4 linked regions of the Homo sapiens genome follow. The protein of the gene in region 1 purifies or fractionates together with the protein of each later gene. This does not show direct contact. Each region holds a gene or a part of one and is shown in the gene's direction. Other genes may lie near its edges.

Region 1 (3,154 bases):
ATAAAACAGGAGAGACACCTGAAACAAATGTCAACCATTCACAAATCTGCCACCACCCTTAGCAGAGATTATAAATGGAATGGATTTGGGAGAAGCTTAGGTTTAAGATCAGTCCTTGTTAACCAACACAGCATTCTCATGGGAGAAGGATCTTATAAATGTGATACAGAATTCAGGCAGACTTTAGGGGGAAACAACTCTCAGAGAACCCACCCAGAAAAGAAATCTTGTAAATGTAATGAGTGTGGGAAGTCCTTTCACTTCCAGTCAGAACTTAGGCGCCATCAGCGATGTCACACTGGAGAAAAGCCGTATGAATGCAGTGACTGTGGAAGAGCCTTTGGTCATATTTCATCCCTTATTAAACATCAAAGAACTCATACTGGAGAAAAGCCCTATGAATGCAGTGAATGTGGGAGAGCCTTCAGCCAGAGTTCGTCTCTTGTTCTGCACTATAGATTTCACACTGGAGAGAAACCCTACAAATGTAATGAATGTGGACGAGCCTTTGGTCACACTTCATCCCTTATTAAGCATCAGAGGACTCATACTGGAGAAAAGCCCTATGAATGCCGGGAATGTGGGAGAACCTTCAGCCAGAGCTCATCACTCATTGTGCATTACAGATTTCATACTGGAGAGAAACCTTACAAATGTAATAAATGTGGGAGAGCCTTCAGCCAGAGTTCATCTCTCACTCAACATTACAGATTTCACACTGGAGAGAAACCCTACAAATGTAATGAGTGTGGAAGGGCCTTTGCTCATACTGCATCCCTTATTAAACATCAGAGAAGTCATGCTGGAAAAAAAACCCTATAAATTCAGTGAATATAGAAGGGCTTTCAGCTGGAGTGCAGACATCACTGGAACTTAAAGAATTCATATCAGAGAGAGATCCTAAAGGTGTAATGTATGTGGGAAGACCACATCTTGTTCCACATCAGGCAATAATTACTAAAGAGAATCCCTGTCAATGTCAAGAGGGGGTGGGCTTCCCCTCTCTTACCAAACATGGGAGAATCCATACTAGTGAGAAACCACGTGAATGTAATGAATGTGGGAACGCTTTGATCAGAGGATGCATATTATTCAGCATCAGACAGCCGACACTGGGGAGGAGCCTTATCAATGCAGTGAGTGTGGCAAGCCTTCAGTTACATACTGATTCTTTAAGAAAATCAGATAACTTGTACTGGAGAGAAATCCTACAAGTGTGGTAAGTATGGAAAAATCTTCAGTTGTATCTCTTCCTTTACTAAGCATCAAGAACACATACTAGAGAGAGGCCCTATGAAAGCAGGAAATAGAGGAAGGCCTTCAGTCAGGGCTCATCCCTTATTAAGCATCAGAAAATTCATACCTGAGAAAAACCTGTGAATGTGGGTAATGTGGGAGAGCCTTCAGCCAAACCTCATTGCTTTATAAACCCCTTAGAACTCTCCCTACTAGCTGGAAACTCTGGTGACGTGATGAATGTGGGAAGGGCTTTGGTGGATGTTCCACCAAAACACGTTAGAGAATTTGTACATTAGAGAATTTGTGCTAGAGCAACTCTTCAAATTTAGTGAAACTGGGAAAACCCATTAGTAGAGTTCAAGCTTCAGTATTCATCTCAAAGAGAAACCTTGGGAACATGATGAATGTGAGGAAAGTTCCTTTCCAACTTGAGATGTATAAAACTAGAGCTGAAAAGAAGCTGAGAAATCACCTTGTCTGGTGATTTTCTGCCTGGTGGGGCCATTTGTATAACGACACTTGTGCATTGCCTCCTCATGCTGTTACTGACGGGGCAGGGTGTCATGCATGGGTGCAGAGGATGGAGGCTGAGAAAGGTAGACAGCTACCCATGATCTAGCCCAGTCGTATTTTAGAGCTAATAAAACTGATGTTCAGAAAGTGACATGCCTTGGCCTATAGTCCTAACTGGGCTGGGCCTCTTTCCTGTGGTTCACAGCTGTAGTATGGAGATTAATAGACTGGATCTTTGCAGTACAACACCTCTATGCACTTCTTTCTCTGTAGCACATGTTACCTTTCTTTGTGAGGCAATGGAGTGGTCTAGGATTGAGCAAAAAGCAATTTTTGTTACATCTTTATGCTAATAGATTTGGAATTTTTGAAATGAAATGAAACCTTGTTTAAACATTAAAATTACTAAAATAGGCTGGGCGCGGTGGCTCACGCCTGTAACCTCAGCACTTTGGGAGGCCGAGGCGGACAGATCACGAGGTCAGGAGTTCGAGACCATCCTGGCTAACACAGTGAAACCCTGTCTCTCCTAAAAATACAAAAAAATTAGCCAGGCATGGTGGCGGGCGCCTGTAGTCCCAGCTACTTGGAAGGCTGAGACAGGAGAATGGCGTGAATCGGGGAGGCAGAGCTTGCAGTCAGCCGAGATCACGCCACTGCACTCCAGCCTGGGAGACAGAGTGAGACTCCGTCTCAGAAAAAAAAAAAAAAAACAACTAAAATATGGGTATTATGCACAATCCAGATCTCAAAAACGTGATTCTAAGTGAAAGAAGGCAGATGCCAGAGACCAGGTATTTTCTAGTACCATTTTAGGAAATGTCCAGAAATGGCAGATCTTCAGAAACAAAGTAACTGCAAATGTTACAAGGAATCTTTTTAGGGTGACGAAAATGTTCTAAAACTAGATGGTGGTGATGGTTGAACGATTTGGTAACTTCACTAAAAATCATTGAATTGTTCACTTTATATGGGCAGATTTTATGGTAAATATACCTCAATAAAATCATTTTTCAAAATCAAATTTACACATATACCAACCATTGCTAAACAAGTATTCCTGTTTTGTTTGTTACTTCAAGCCATCTATGCATTTTTGGTATCACTTTTTATTTTCTGTAACAGTTACCCCTACATTTACTGGGTCTCAGAACCTTGTCAGGCTCTGCTTTAAAGTTCCTACCATGTTGGCTCTGTAACTCAGGTGGAGAAGCCTAGACCAGGAGCTGGCGTAGACCAAAGGATACTTGCCTAATAAGGATTAGCTTATACTGAGGAAAATACTTTAAGCATTTAAAGTCCAGATGAGGAAGTTGAGCCCAGAATTCAGGGAACCAGCTCAAAGTGGGCCCATGCAGACAGGCTGGGTCTAAGAGTCCACAAGGTTGGCCAGGGCAGGTAG
Region 2 (3,980 bases), on another chromosome or scaffold:
GTATAAACAGCTTCTCTCTCAATGTTCTTGGGGTTCTTTCTAACTGGTCTCAAAGAGACTGGTGGTCTTTTGTCTTGTGCAAAACTTAAAGCTTACATGATGAGATTTTTCCCTTAAGAATAATTTGGGAGGCCGAGGCGGGCGTATCACCTAAAGTCAGGAGTTGGAGACCAGCCTGGCCAACATGGCGAAACCCTGTCTCTGCTAAAAATACAAAAATCAGCCAGCCGTGGTGTTCTGTGCCTGTAGTCGCAGCTACTCGGGAAGCTGAGGTGGGAGAATCACTTGAACCCAGGAGGCAGAGGTTGCAGTGAGCCAAGATTGTGCCACTGCACTCCAGCCTGGGTAACAGAGCGAGACTATGTCATAAAAAAAAAAAAAAAAAAAAAGAATGAAGTGAATAATTGACTTTCATATCATTTAGCATTTTAAGTATATAGTCTCATAACTAGAACATGATCGTGGTTCAAAAATAAATCACTAAGATGCTGCTCATGGGGGTGGGAGAAAAATAGTACAATTCAGCAGCTTTCCAAAGGAAGGTGAGGACAATTTAAAATGATTCCACTGTTTGAAATTAATTAAGAGTCTTCTTTTTTTGTTTGTTTGTTGTTCTTTTTTTTTTTTTTTTTTTTTTTGAGACTGCGTCTCGCTCTGTTGCCCAGGCTGAAGTGCAGTGGTGTGATCTTGGCTCACTGCAGCCTCCGCCTCCCTCCCAGGTTCAAGTGATTCTCGTGCCTTAGCTTCTCGAGTAGCTGGGATTACAGGCACCCACCACCATGCCTGGCTAATTTTTGTATTTTCAGTAGAGATGGGGTTTCGCCATGTTGGCCAGACTGGTCTCCAACTCCTGACCTATGTGATCTGCCTGCTTGGCCTCCCAAAATGCTGGGATTACAGGCGTGAGCCACCGCGCCTAGCCAAGAGTCTTCTGGTAAGCAATTGGCACTGCCCTGGTCTCCTGGGTGCCTCTGGGGAGTGGCTTCCAAGGGACAAGGTTCGGACCATTTAGTGTCTGGAGGGTGCCCTGATTCCAGGCAGAGTGGGCCCTGTCTGACACAGTTTTCTGGCTACAGAAGCCGTTCCTTTGTCTAGGTCTGTGTCACCCGATCAGGTGTTGGTTAATGTTTCATTGCTTAAGAAGCGGACAGGACCCGGAGAAAGCGTGCTGTTCAATTTTTCTCTGAACAGTCTGTGTGTTCAGCAAGGGCTTAGGAAATTCTTATAGCCATGAATAACCTGTTTATTCAGTTACTTTGTTGACTTCACTCGGACACTGATGATTAAGCAGAGGTAAACATACGTGGTCACTGTCATCACAGATTTTTTAGTCTGGCGGGAAAAAGACCATTTAAGAAATAAACACATATGATGTGTTGTGATGAGCGTATTAAGGAATATTAGAGCACGCCGTCAGTGTGTTGGGGAGGCCGTGTTTAGATTTGGGAGGCAGCTTCAGCAGAGCTCGCTGAAGAAGTGACATTCAGCTGAGGCGTGAGTGACAGAGTTGGCCTTACCTGTGGGGCTCAGCTCTGGACAAAAACAGAAGGACGTAGGAAGGCCAGAGGGGCAGGACACCACTCAGCTACTTGACTGAAGTATGCAGAGCCTCCAGGGCGGATGGCATAGCTCAGGGATAGGGACATACAAGCTTAGTATGGTGCCTGCTCTCATTTGGGTTTTGTCTGTCATCAGAAGAGATATACTTGTAAGGATGATTAATTTGATGGGAAGGTAGAATGGGAAGTGGCATCTGTGTTTCTCTCAGGAGAGTCTTCTGTCCCTTTGGCCCTGGACAGATTCAGGCAGAGCCTTGACTCCTCCATTTGTGTGGTCAAAACCAAGGACGTCAGATGGGAACCTCAAGCTTGTGGGTTCCACCTTGTCATTTCACAGTTGGGGCCATGAGGTCCAGAGACGGGGAATGCCTTGCTTAGGTTGATGCCCTGAGTCAGAGATAGGGCAGAGACCAGGACTCCTGTGTCCCGGGGAAATGTTTACTCTGCGCGCCAGTGGTGGTGGGCTTGGCGTTAGATCTACTGTCTTGTTCTCTATTTTCTGTTCATGTTTGTTTATTGATCTCTTTTTCCCATTTATCTGCCTTCTTGTGGGTCGAGTCCTTTTTATGACTGATGGCTTATTTGCTCTAACTCTGTGTCATTGTGGTTTACTGTAGGATTACAGTACACATCTTCCCTTACAGTCTGTCTGCAAGGGGTGCTCTGTTGGTTTCAGCGTAGTGCAAGAACTCTGTGGGAATATACTTGCATTTCCCCTCCCGTCGATCTTTGTGATGTTATTGTCATACGGTTTACTTCTCTTTAAGAAGTCACCCAATATTTTATTGGCTTTGACTTGTTGTGGTTTGGCTTTTTTGCTTTGAACAGTTGTGTTTTTTTTTGTTTTTGTTTTTGTTTTTGTTTGTTTTTGAGACGGAGTCTCGCTCTGTCGCCTAGGCTGGAGTGCAGTGGCGCGATCTCGGCTCACTGCAAGCTCTGCCTCCTGGGTTCATGCCATTCTCCTGCCTCAGCCTCCCAAGTAGCTGGAACTACAGGTGCCCGCCACCAGGCCTGGCTAATTTTTTGTATTTTAAGTAGAGATGGGGTTTCACTGTGTTAGTCAGGATGGTCTTGATCTCCTGACCTCGTGATCCTCCCACCTCGGCCTCCCAAAGTGCTGAGATTACAGGCGTGAGCCACCACGCCCAGCCAAACAGTTATATTTTAAAGAGACCCAGAAATGACAGGAAAAAATCATGTTCACCTCACCAGGTGCTCTTCGTTGCTTTTTGTTGTATATCCAAGTTCCCATCGGAGATCATCTTCCTCCCTCCTGAAGGAATTGAATGTTTCCTGTAGTGCAGGTTTGCTGGTGATACGTTCTTGTTTCTTTTGCATGTCAGAAAAAGTCTTTACTTTGTCTTCATTTTGAAATAAATTTTCACTGGGTATAGAATTCTAGGTTAATTTAATCTTTGTTCCTTCAGTTACCAATTTGTGTCTTTTCTCTCTCTTTTTCTGTGGCTGCTTTTAAGTTTCTTCTGGTTTTTTTGTTTTGTTTTGTTTTCCCTTAGAGACAGGATCTCACTGTGTCACCCAGGCTGGAGTACAGTGGTGCTCACTGCAGCCTCGAGCTCCCGGGCTCAAGCGATCCTCTCACCTCAGCCTCCTGAGTAGCTGAGACCACAGGCATGTACCACTACACCCAGCTAATTTTTAAAATTTTTGGTACAGATGTGGTTTCTCTGTGTTGCCCAGGCTGGTTTTGAACACCTGGCCTCAAGTGATCTACCTGCCTTGGCCTCACAAAGTGCTGGGATTACAGGCATGAGCCACTGTGCCCAGCCTGTGCCTGGTAATTTTTTACTGGATGTTGTGAATTGTATTTTTTGGGTGCTAGTTATACTTGTATCTCTACAAATACCCTTGAGCTTTTTTCTGGGACACAGCTGAGGTACTGGACACACACTAAGGCAGGGCCAAAGTAGCCTTCAGTTTGGGCTGATTTTGTCTCACCACTGGGCAGTGCCCTCTGAGTAGTGGGTCTGATGGCCCGTGAATTACCAGCCTTTCCACCCTGGCTATTGGGAAGAGCAAACCATTTGTGGCCCTGAGTGCCCCTCCAGTGGTTGTTCCCTCTGCTCCTGATTGTTCCCTCTGCTCCTTATGGGTGGTGCTGTCCCAGCCTCTGGTTTCCTCGCACACGTGTGCACTGGGTGGGAGGAACCCTCTGTGGGTCTCTTCAGCTTGCTCTGCGTGGCTCTGTGTGGCTGTGTCCTCTCTGATACTCAGTTCCGTGATTTCTCTCTGTCTTGGTCTCAGAATCTCAGTGCTGTCTTACCCATCCCCCATTGCCTGGGAATCTAGGCAGTGAGCAGGGGCAGTCAGGGAGCTCTCAGGGATTGTTGTCTTGGGCAGCCTGATGTCCAGGATCTGAAAACTGTCGTTGCCTACGTTTCATCACATTTGTTAGTTGTTTCA
Region 3 (3,980 bases), on another chromosome or scaffold:
GGAACCGTACAGGCAGCTTTAGTGTAAAAGGAGGAGGCTGGCAACACCACAGAAATTTTATTTATTCTTTATATTTTAAGTTAGTACAGCAGACATAACACAAGGACAGTGAGCTACAACCTTCTGTATCTGGTGTTAAAAATTTCCATTCATTTTCAGATAACCTGTTTTTTGCCACTTTACAATAACTCGTAAGCTGTAACTCTTCCAATGTCCACAAGCAAACTTCAGCTCATATTTATTGTAGTATTTAGGTATTAACTATTTAATGTGTGTAAAATTGTATCATTTTTATTAGATTGCCTTCTCTTTTTATATGTCACTGATGAAGTTTTTGACATTGTATCTCTAACAGTTTTTCTCCTAAAGGCTGCAATTTTTAACAATTTTGCATAATGCAGTAATTTTTGGAAATATATGTGTCACAGCAAAACTGACTGTGGTCAGTAGAAGAGGACATGATGACCTTTCTTTAAAACTCTCTAAAACGATTTTCCCACTGGGGCTTGCCAAAGACTTCATACAACATCCTTACCTGCAACAGATTCTTGGAGAATCATTGCATCTGCTGGTCACGAAACCCAAGTGGCGGAGTACCTTGTATTGCACTCTGGACCTGGTACAGAGCCGTCTCTTAACCTGGGCCCCATTCATAACTGACATTCTTTTTTTTTTTTTTTTCTTTTGAGATGGAGTCTCGCACTGTTGTCTGGGCTGGAGTGCAATGGCATGATCCTGGCTCACCGCAACCTCCGCCTCCCGGGTTCAAGCAATTCTCCCACCTCAGCCTCCCGAGTAGCTGGGATTACAGGTGCCTGCCACCACGCCTGGCTAATTTTTTGTATTTTTAGTAGAAACGGTGTTTCACTGTGTTGGCCAGGCTGGTCTCAAACTCCTGACCTCGTGATCCACCCGCCTCAGCCTCCCAGAGTGCTGGGATTACAAGCGTGAGCCAGCGTGCCCAGCCATAACTGACAATCTTAAGAGGTATTTTATAAAATGAATCAAGCAGTACACACCCTAATGAAGTATATCTTGCCTCCAGTGTGCAGTGAGCTCCCAATGTCCAGTCTAAAGAGGCAGATAGGTGCGGCCTTTCTTTTTTCTTAAGAGTGGAGTTTGCAACATGCTCCAGACTACACTCCCACGAAAGTGGTGGGCCTCAGAGTGAGGATGGTTATTCCTTCACCCTGATATGTGGCATGTACGTATCTGACCAGTACCATTGAAAATACCCACTACCTGTATCAAGTCCAGTCAACATGATGTCAGTATAGTGGATCAAGTGATACTCTCTAGACTGTGCAAAACCATCTAAGTCCATGAGTACTGTATTATTTGAGAGAGCCAGGAAAGTTACTCTAACTCTGAAGACTGAAGGTATATCATTAAACCTGCCAAGATAAAAACGGATTGTTTCTGTTTGATCTAATTGGGAAAGGGGAAAAAGCAAGTACTTGATTGATAACTGCATAGCCATATTGATTTGCTCCAGCAAAAATACCACATCCTGTAAAGCAGCTGCAGCTGGAGTTTGATTGTTTATGATACTCTTAAATACTTGCAAGACTCATCTACTTTTTGTATAGGTCAAGGAGGCATCTTACATTGGGATGGGATGGTGGTGTCAATATCTGCAGTTCCTTTAGGACTGTAGTAATTGCTTATTGTTTTGATTGAGAGGGACAATTCTAGGGACTTGGATTTGGTGTTTCCTATAATAGTAGCCCATACATCATGGGTCAGGGAACTGATATAGTATGGGATTTCTGCCAGTGCCAAATATGTCTGTTCCAACTATGATTCTGGAGATGGAAAAATAAGCACTGGGTCGAATCATATCCCTTGGGCCCGCTGAGACAGATACAGTCCCAAATTTTATCAGCTAGCTTTTGTAAAGTGTCTGTGTAACCTCCTGGACCACATGAGTATATTCAGTCACCAGGGATAAGCAGAGCTGGCATAAGTGTGGGACCCAAGAGCAAACAACACATGATAGGCACACCATCTACTAAATATTTGATTCCGAAGAGCTGTTTACTGTTTTCCAGATATTTTATGTATTTTTTTATTGAGGTGAAATTCACATAGCATAAAATTAACCATTTTAGAGTGAACTATTTAATGCTATTTAGTACATTCACAGTGTTGTATACCATCATTCCTGTCTAGTTCCAAACGCTGTCATCACCTCGTAATAGCATGCTATACCCATTAAGCAGTTTCTCCCCATTCCCTCCTCCCCCTAACCCCTGGCAACCGCCAATCTGCCTTCAGTCTCTGGATTTACCTATTCTGAACATTTCATTTAGGTGGAATTATATAATATGTAACCTTTTATGTCTAGCCTCTTATTTTTTAATTTCAGAAAAATGTGTTTTATTTGTTTTTTCTTTTTTCAACTTTATGTTAGAATTGGGGTACATGTGCAAGTTTGTTACAAACGTATATTGCGTGATGCTGAAGTTTGAAGTATGAATGAATCTGTCACCCAGATAGTAAGGATAGTACTCCATAGGTAGTTTTCCTTAACTCTTCCCCCACATCCTCCCTCCGCCTTCTTGTGTTCCCCAGTGTCTGTTGTTCTCATTTTTATGAACACGTGTACCCAATGTTTAGCTCCCATTTATAAGTGGGAAATGTGGTATTTGATTTTTCTGATTCCACATTAGCTTGCTTAGGAAATGGTTTCCAGCTACATCTGTGTTGCTGCGAAGAACATGATTTTGTTCTTTTTTATTAGCCTCTTACATAGCATAATGCTTTCAGATATACTACAATGTTCATTCATGTTGTGGTGTGTATCAGTACTTCATTCTTTTTTATGACTTAGTGATATTCCATTTTATGTGTTTACCACAATTTGTCCATGACGCACATTTGATATATTAACAAATGAACAACTGAAGTTTAGTTTTCACTTATGTAGTGAAAAAGCAGTGGTCTAGAGTTAGATACTTGGATCTGTTCCCTCCTCAGCTGGTTGTTGTCCATCTGTGAGCTTTAAAATACTGTTCTTGGAATTTCAGTGTGCCTGGGCTGTAAAGGTGGCAGTATGAATTTTGAAGATTTTGAAATGGTTTCTCCAGATGGGTTTCACCAGTATGTCTTATTATTCCCCTGCTCAAAATCCTGTTGCTTCTTAAAAAAGACTAACCTTAGGCTTTATTCCATGTTAGCTCTGGTTTAATTCTTCATCCTTGTAACCTATTAACATTCTCTGCATTTGAGCCCAAGTAGACCACTTAGTATTATGAAACACATGCAATTTTCTTCTTTAGTCCAGATATCCATAGCATTTTATTGGTCTCTGTTTTATGAAATTTTATTTTACTCCATTGTGCAGAGGAGGTATCAGAATTTAGTTATTTCTATCTAAGGTACTGAAAGAGAAAAATAGCAATTCAGTTGTTGGATAATAAAGGAGGTTGAAGAAGAAGATTGTATTTTTCTCCATCTTGTGTGTATAGCATGTGGTGCAGTTCTAAGCAGAGTAGAAAAATGCTTTTTGATTGACTAAAATTTTTCCTATGCATGAACACAAGGAGTCTTTTCTTTTTGCTTAAATGTGGACTTTAACCAGTTTCTTCAAGTGAAGTTAAGTGACAGAGAAGAAGGAAAAGTGAGACTATGTATAGCCACAATTCTCATATTAATTAATCTGTTCGGTTTATACATTATTTAGTTCCACTTAAATTCCTTTTATCATTGTTTCAGTTTTATGTTGTGACTGAACAATTAATATTTAAGCCATTCTGTGAATCAAGAGTGAAGTAAAAGTAAACTCTTCTCAGAATTTGAAATTTATAGGTGGATATATAATAGTGAACATAGATGAGATATTTGTATCCTTTTAAAATTTACCGTTGTCTTGGAGAAGGCATCAGTATACTTGAATTATATTGAGTTAATTTGAGGATCATTCTAGTTTTTTAGGAGATTTATCTCATTTTAAGCACTGAGAATAAAGTTTGAGTTAC
Region 4 (3,980 bases), on another chromosome or scaffold:
CAGCTACTTAGGAGGCTGAGGCAGGAGAATTACTTGAACCTGGGAGGCGGAATTGCGCCACGACACTCCAGTCTAGGCAACAGAATGAGACTCTTGTCTCAAAAATAAGTAAATACGTAGGTCCATAAAAGCAATTTTAAGTGGAGATGTCCTTTGGAGCTGGGAGTGAAGGTAGCACTTAAGCGGTGGCTTTGCATGTCTTGATAAAAGTAATGAGTTGTTTGCCTCAATACAGCTTCAACTAAAATTCGGATTTTGAGCTCAAAAAATGTTAATGCCCTTCATAGAAATTAAGGGGAATGGAAATCTTTTCTTAACATTTTACACCTCTACCCCTAAAATTTTAAGAACTGTACTTTATAAAAATGTGCAATTTTCATACAGCATCCCAGTGTTGATCATGGAGGTTAATGATTCTTTATTGTTAGGGACCTATCTTGTAATTCCAGAGTTATTTATGTTTTCTACAGTTGAAGAGGAAAAATACCGCTTCTTATTGCCTCCTTTTCAGGATTTCTTCTGGCTTCTTGAGTAGCTGGAGTATTTTTGAGAGACTCCTACAGGCCCTGCGGGGTGGCACATGCCTGTAATCCTAGCTACTTAGGAGGCTGAGGTGGGAGAATTGCTTAAACCCGGGAGGCAGAGGTTGCAGTGAGCCGAGATCGCATCACTGCACTCCAGCCTGGGCGACAGAGCAAGACTCTGTCTCGAAAAAAAAAAAGGCAAACAAATTTATCTGTATCAATTTGGAATTAAAAGATTTGTGTGTATAGATTTTTTGTTAAAAATAGAAGAAATAGGGGGAGGGTCCTTTTCTGAAATCTGAGAATGATAGGGATGATGACTATCAAAACCCAGGCCTGTGACTGGCTTGTTTAAAAACAAAACAAGGCCGGCCCGGTGGCTCACGCCTGTAATCCCAGCGCTTTGGGAGGCTGAGGCGGGCGGATCACAAGGTCAAGAGATGGAGACCATCCTGGCCAATATGGTGAAATACAGTCTCTACTAAAAATACAAAAATTAGCTGGGCGTGGTGGCGCGCGTCTGTAGTCCCAGCTACTCGGGAGGGTGAGGCAGAGAATCACTTGAACCCGGGAGGCGGAGGTTGCAGTGAGCCGAGGTCGGCCACTGCACTCCAGCCTGGCAATAGAGCGAGACTCGTCTCAAAAACAAAACAAAAAAAAACACAGAACTTTTAAATTGGGCTTAAAATTTTTTTGTGTATGAAGTTTTAAGATAAATGTGAGAGATGTCATAGCATTTTGCTTATTCAGCGTCTTTAGCAATTTAATTCCATATATCATCAAATTGACCTTACATAAGGGTAAAGCTTTCTTTCTTATAGTAGGGATAGTGTTAACCTAAGAGAGTCTTGGGTTTAATCTATTTTCCTAAATTTAAGTACTATCATTTATCTGATTTTAATGCTTTCAGTTGTTCTCCTCTCCCCTTCCATTTAAGCAAAGAATTTGTAAACTTAAAAAAAATTAAAATCTCAAATTTTTATATTTGAGGTTCTTTCACTGAAGGATGTTGATCTGCTCAATATAAGTAGAGGGCAAGATTTTGAAAAGGAGCAGTGCAAGTAATTATACCCACAGCGCATAACTAATTTTACAGATCTGTCATAGAGGCTTATACTTTGTACCACTCATTAAATGGAATATAGAACCTTGAGATCTGAAAGAATGTCCAGGGATTTAAATATTTAGGGATGTGTGGTTTGGAAAACACTTTGTCTGTGGGCTTAATTTTGTAAATCAACCAAACTCTAACCTACGATGTAGCATGTGTATTATAAGAAGTGTGAAATGTCATCAATAATCAGCATAGTAGTTTCCTAGAACTTGACTGGCAGAAAACTTTCTTTGATAGTATCAGTGGGTGCTCACCCATTAGATAACTAAAAGATGTGTATTCACGTGCTAATGAATTAAAACTGATTGCTATTTGTTCATATGTCCTCACAAATTTAGCAAGACAGGCATGGAGGTGAAAAAAATAGTAACAACTAGATGAGGGAAAGATTGTATACACTGAAGAAAAGTTGAGAGGAGAATACTAAAGGGAAATATGGTTTCCCTTCCCTCCTTTTAAGTTACTTATATATATAGTTATATATAATCCTTACTGTCCCATGACTTTCACCAAAGATGGAGTGACTAGGCCTGACTGATATGTAGAAGAAAAGTTGTGATCTTTCCTTGAAACCAGGACCCTATCATCTGACTTACCAAGATTCATAAATACTGTATAACTCCAGAAGATTAGAACATAATGTTAAATCACATTAGTCCTTACAAACTTGTTTTTTCTACCTTTGAAATTGCCACTTATACATTAGTTTTTTGAACATTACAATTGATCAGGATATATAAGCTATGAGACTTATGAACCACGTTTAAAATTTGTACAAAAGATTATAAATTTTACAGGTGATTTCACAATTATGGCATGAGTTTAAATTTGATTATATGTGGGTGTCAGTTACTAAATCATGTATTTATGATAAGACTTCTAAATTTTAGAGAATAAGGAAACATACAGAATTAGAATATGTTTGAGTCTTTGCAGATAAAGACCACATTGACTTCAGAATGCAGCATATAGGCATGCTGCATTTAAAAGAAGGGAAATTATTATTTCAATTTAATATGAGCAGTCGCTATCTTCTTTTTAAGGGATTTGTTCTAATAGCAGTTACGGTTTAAGAAGATAATGGAAGTGTTGCTTTAACTTCATAGGGGTCTGTAAGAGTATTCTCCCATACTCAAGGGGAAGGAAGCAGAACTGTTGTTCTTTCTATAGGCTGAGGTTGAGTAAATACAGGTTTTTTACAACTCCTAAAGAAGTTCTTTAGTAAGTAGTAAAATGAATATTGTAAGGTATTTGAATAATTTCGGTACATTTCCCTTCTTTTTGGGTACTTGTGATTTTCCTCAATGCACTAGTGTGTATCTATGGAAATAGAGCGCCAGTGTCATAAAGTAGCAGGAAAATACATTTTTAGTAAGTCTGTTTTACAAGCTTATACTCATAGACTTGGACTTGAGTAAATTTGGCCCTATTAAATGGCATAGAATTTGCCTGGCCTTAATGTTAGAGTAAGTTACAGTATAGCATTTAATAGTTTATTTATTTTAATGGATAGCACATATATATATTGTGTTGGAATTTCTTTTTATAGTATGACACAGGCTATATTAAAAGACTGCAGTTATTGCTTGCTGTAGGAATTGTTCATGTTCCGCAACATTGTGTACATGTATATAATAACCCTTTTCCTGATTAAAAGAATAGTACATGGTTATTGTGGTTATTCACAGTGTGTAAAATACAACTCTATTTTAACACAGAAAGACAATTCTTAACCAGCTTGTATTGGTTACACTATAACACTTTCTTAGTGTTTTAGTTAGTTCCCTCCTTTTAATTTTTGGCCATTTCCTTCAACCAACAGCAGGGTCATCTTGATAATAAAGAATAGTTTAAACAAGCAGGCCGGGTGCAGTGGCTCATGCCTGTAATCCCAGCACTTTGCGAGGCTGAGGCGGGTGGATCACTTGAGGTCAGGAGTTCGAGGCCAGCCTGGCCAATGTGGTGAAACCCCGTCTCTACTAAAATAAAATACAAAAGTTAGCCAGGTGCGATGGCGGGTGCCTGTAATCCCAGCTACCCAGGAAGCTGAGGCAGAATTGCTTGAACCCAGGAGTTGGAGGTTGCAATGAGAAGATTGTGCCACTGCACTCCAGCCTGGGTGACAGAAAAACCAAACAAGCAAATAAACATCAAAACAAAAACCTGTTAAAGCAGGTTGTGCTGTGAGAAGAACTTTTCTGCCTGGCTTCTGCTTTATAGCCTATAAGATAGACTGGAGGCCTATTTAAGACTTTTGTTAAAATTCATGATACGAGTTGAGTTATTAATCTGCCCATTTAAACCGGGCAGTGTATTTTTAATGGTTATTGGATGCAGGAGCC

Evidence for each region.
Region 2: the proteins of ZNF514 (region 1) and SAFB2 purify together in Homo sapiens (affinity purification with mass spectrometry; one large-scale study listed by BioGRID and IntAct). This does not show direct contact.
Region 3: the proteins of ZNF514 (region 1) and SMARCAD1 purify together in Homo sapiens (affinity purification with mass spectrometry; one large-scale study listed by BioGRID and IntAct). This does not show direct contact.
Region 4: the proteins of ZNF514 (region 1) and TRA2A purify together in Homo sapiens (affinity purification with mass spectrometry; one large-scale study listed by BioGRID and IntAct). This does not show direct contact.

What each region holds. Positions count from the first base shown.
Region 1 is NC_000002.12:95,146,950-95,150,103, reverse strand, and holds part of ZNF514 (zinc finger protein 514), read left to right. Parts: coding exon 1-822; 3' UTR 823-3,154. UniProt on the Homo sapiens protein: May be involved in transcriptional regulation.
Region 2 is NC_000019.10:5,605,710-5,609,689, reverse strand, and holds part of SAFB2 (scaffold attachment factor B2), read left to right. Parts: intron 1-3,980. UniProt on the Homo sapiens protein: Binds to scaffold/matrix attachment region (S/MAR) DNA. Can function as an estrogen receptor corepressor and can also inhibit cell proliferation.
Region 3 is NC_000004.12:94,245,452-94,249,431, forward strand, and holds part of SMARCAD1 (SWI/SNF-related matrix-associated actin-dependent regulator of chromatin subfamily A containing DEAD/H box 1), read left to right. Parts: exon of another isoform or gene 1-3,102; intron 3,103-3,980. UniProt on the Homo sapiens protein: DNA helicase that possesses intrinsic ATP-dependent nucleosome-remodeling activity and is both required for DNA repair and heterochromatin organization.
Region 4 is NC_000007.14:23,525,415-23,529,394, reverse strand, and holds part of TRA2A (transformer-2 protein homolog alpha), read left to right. Parts: intron 1-3,980. UniProt on the Homo sapiens protein: Sequence-specific RNA-binding protein which participates in the control of pre-mRNA splicing.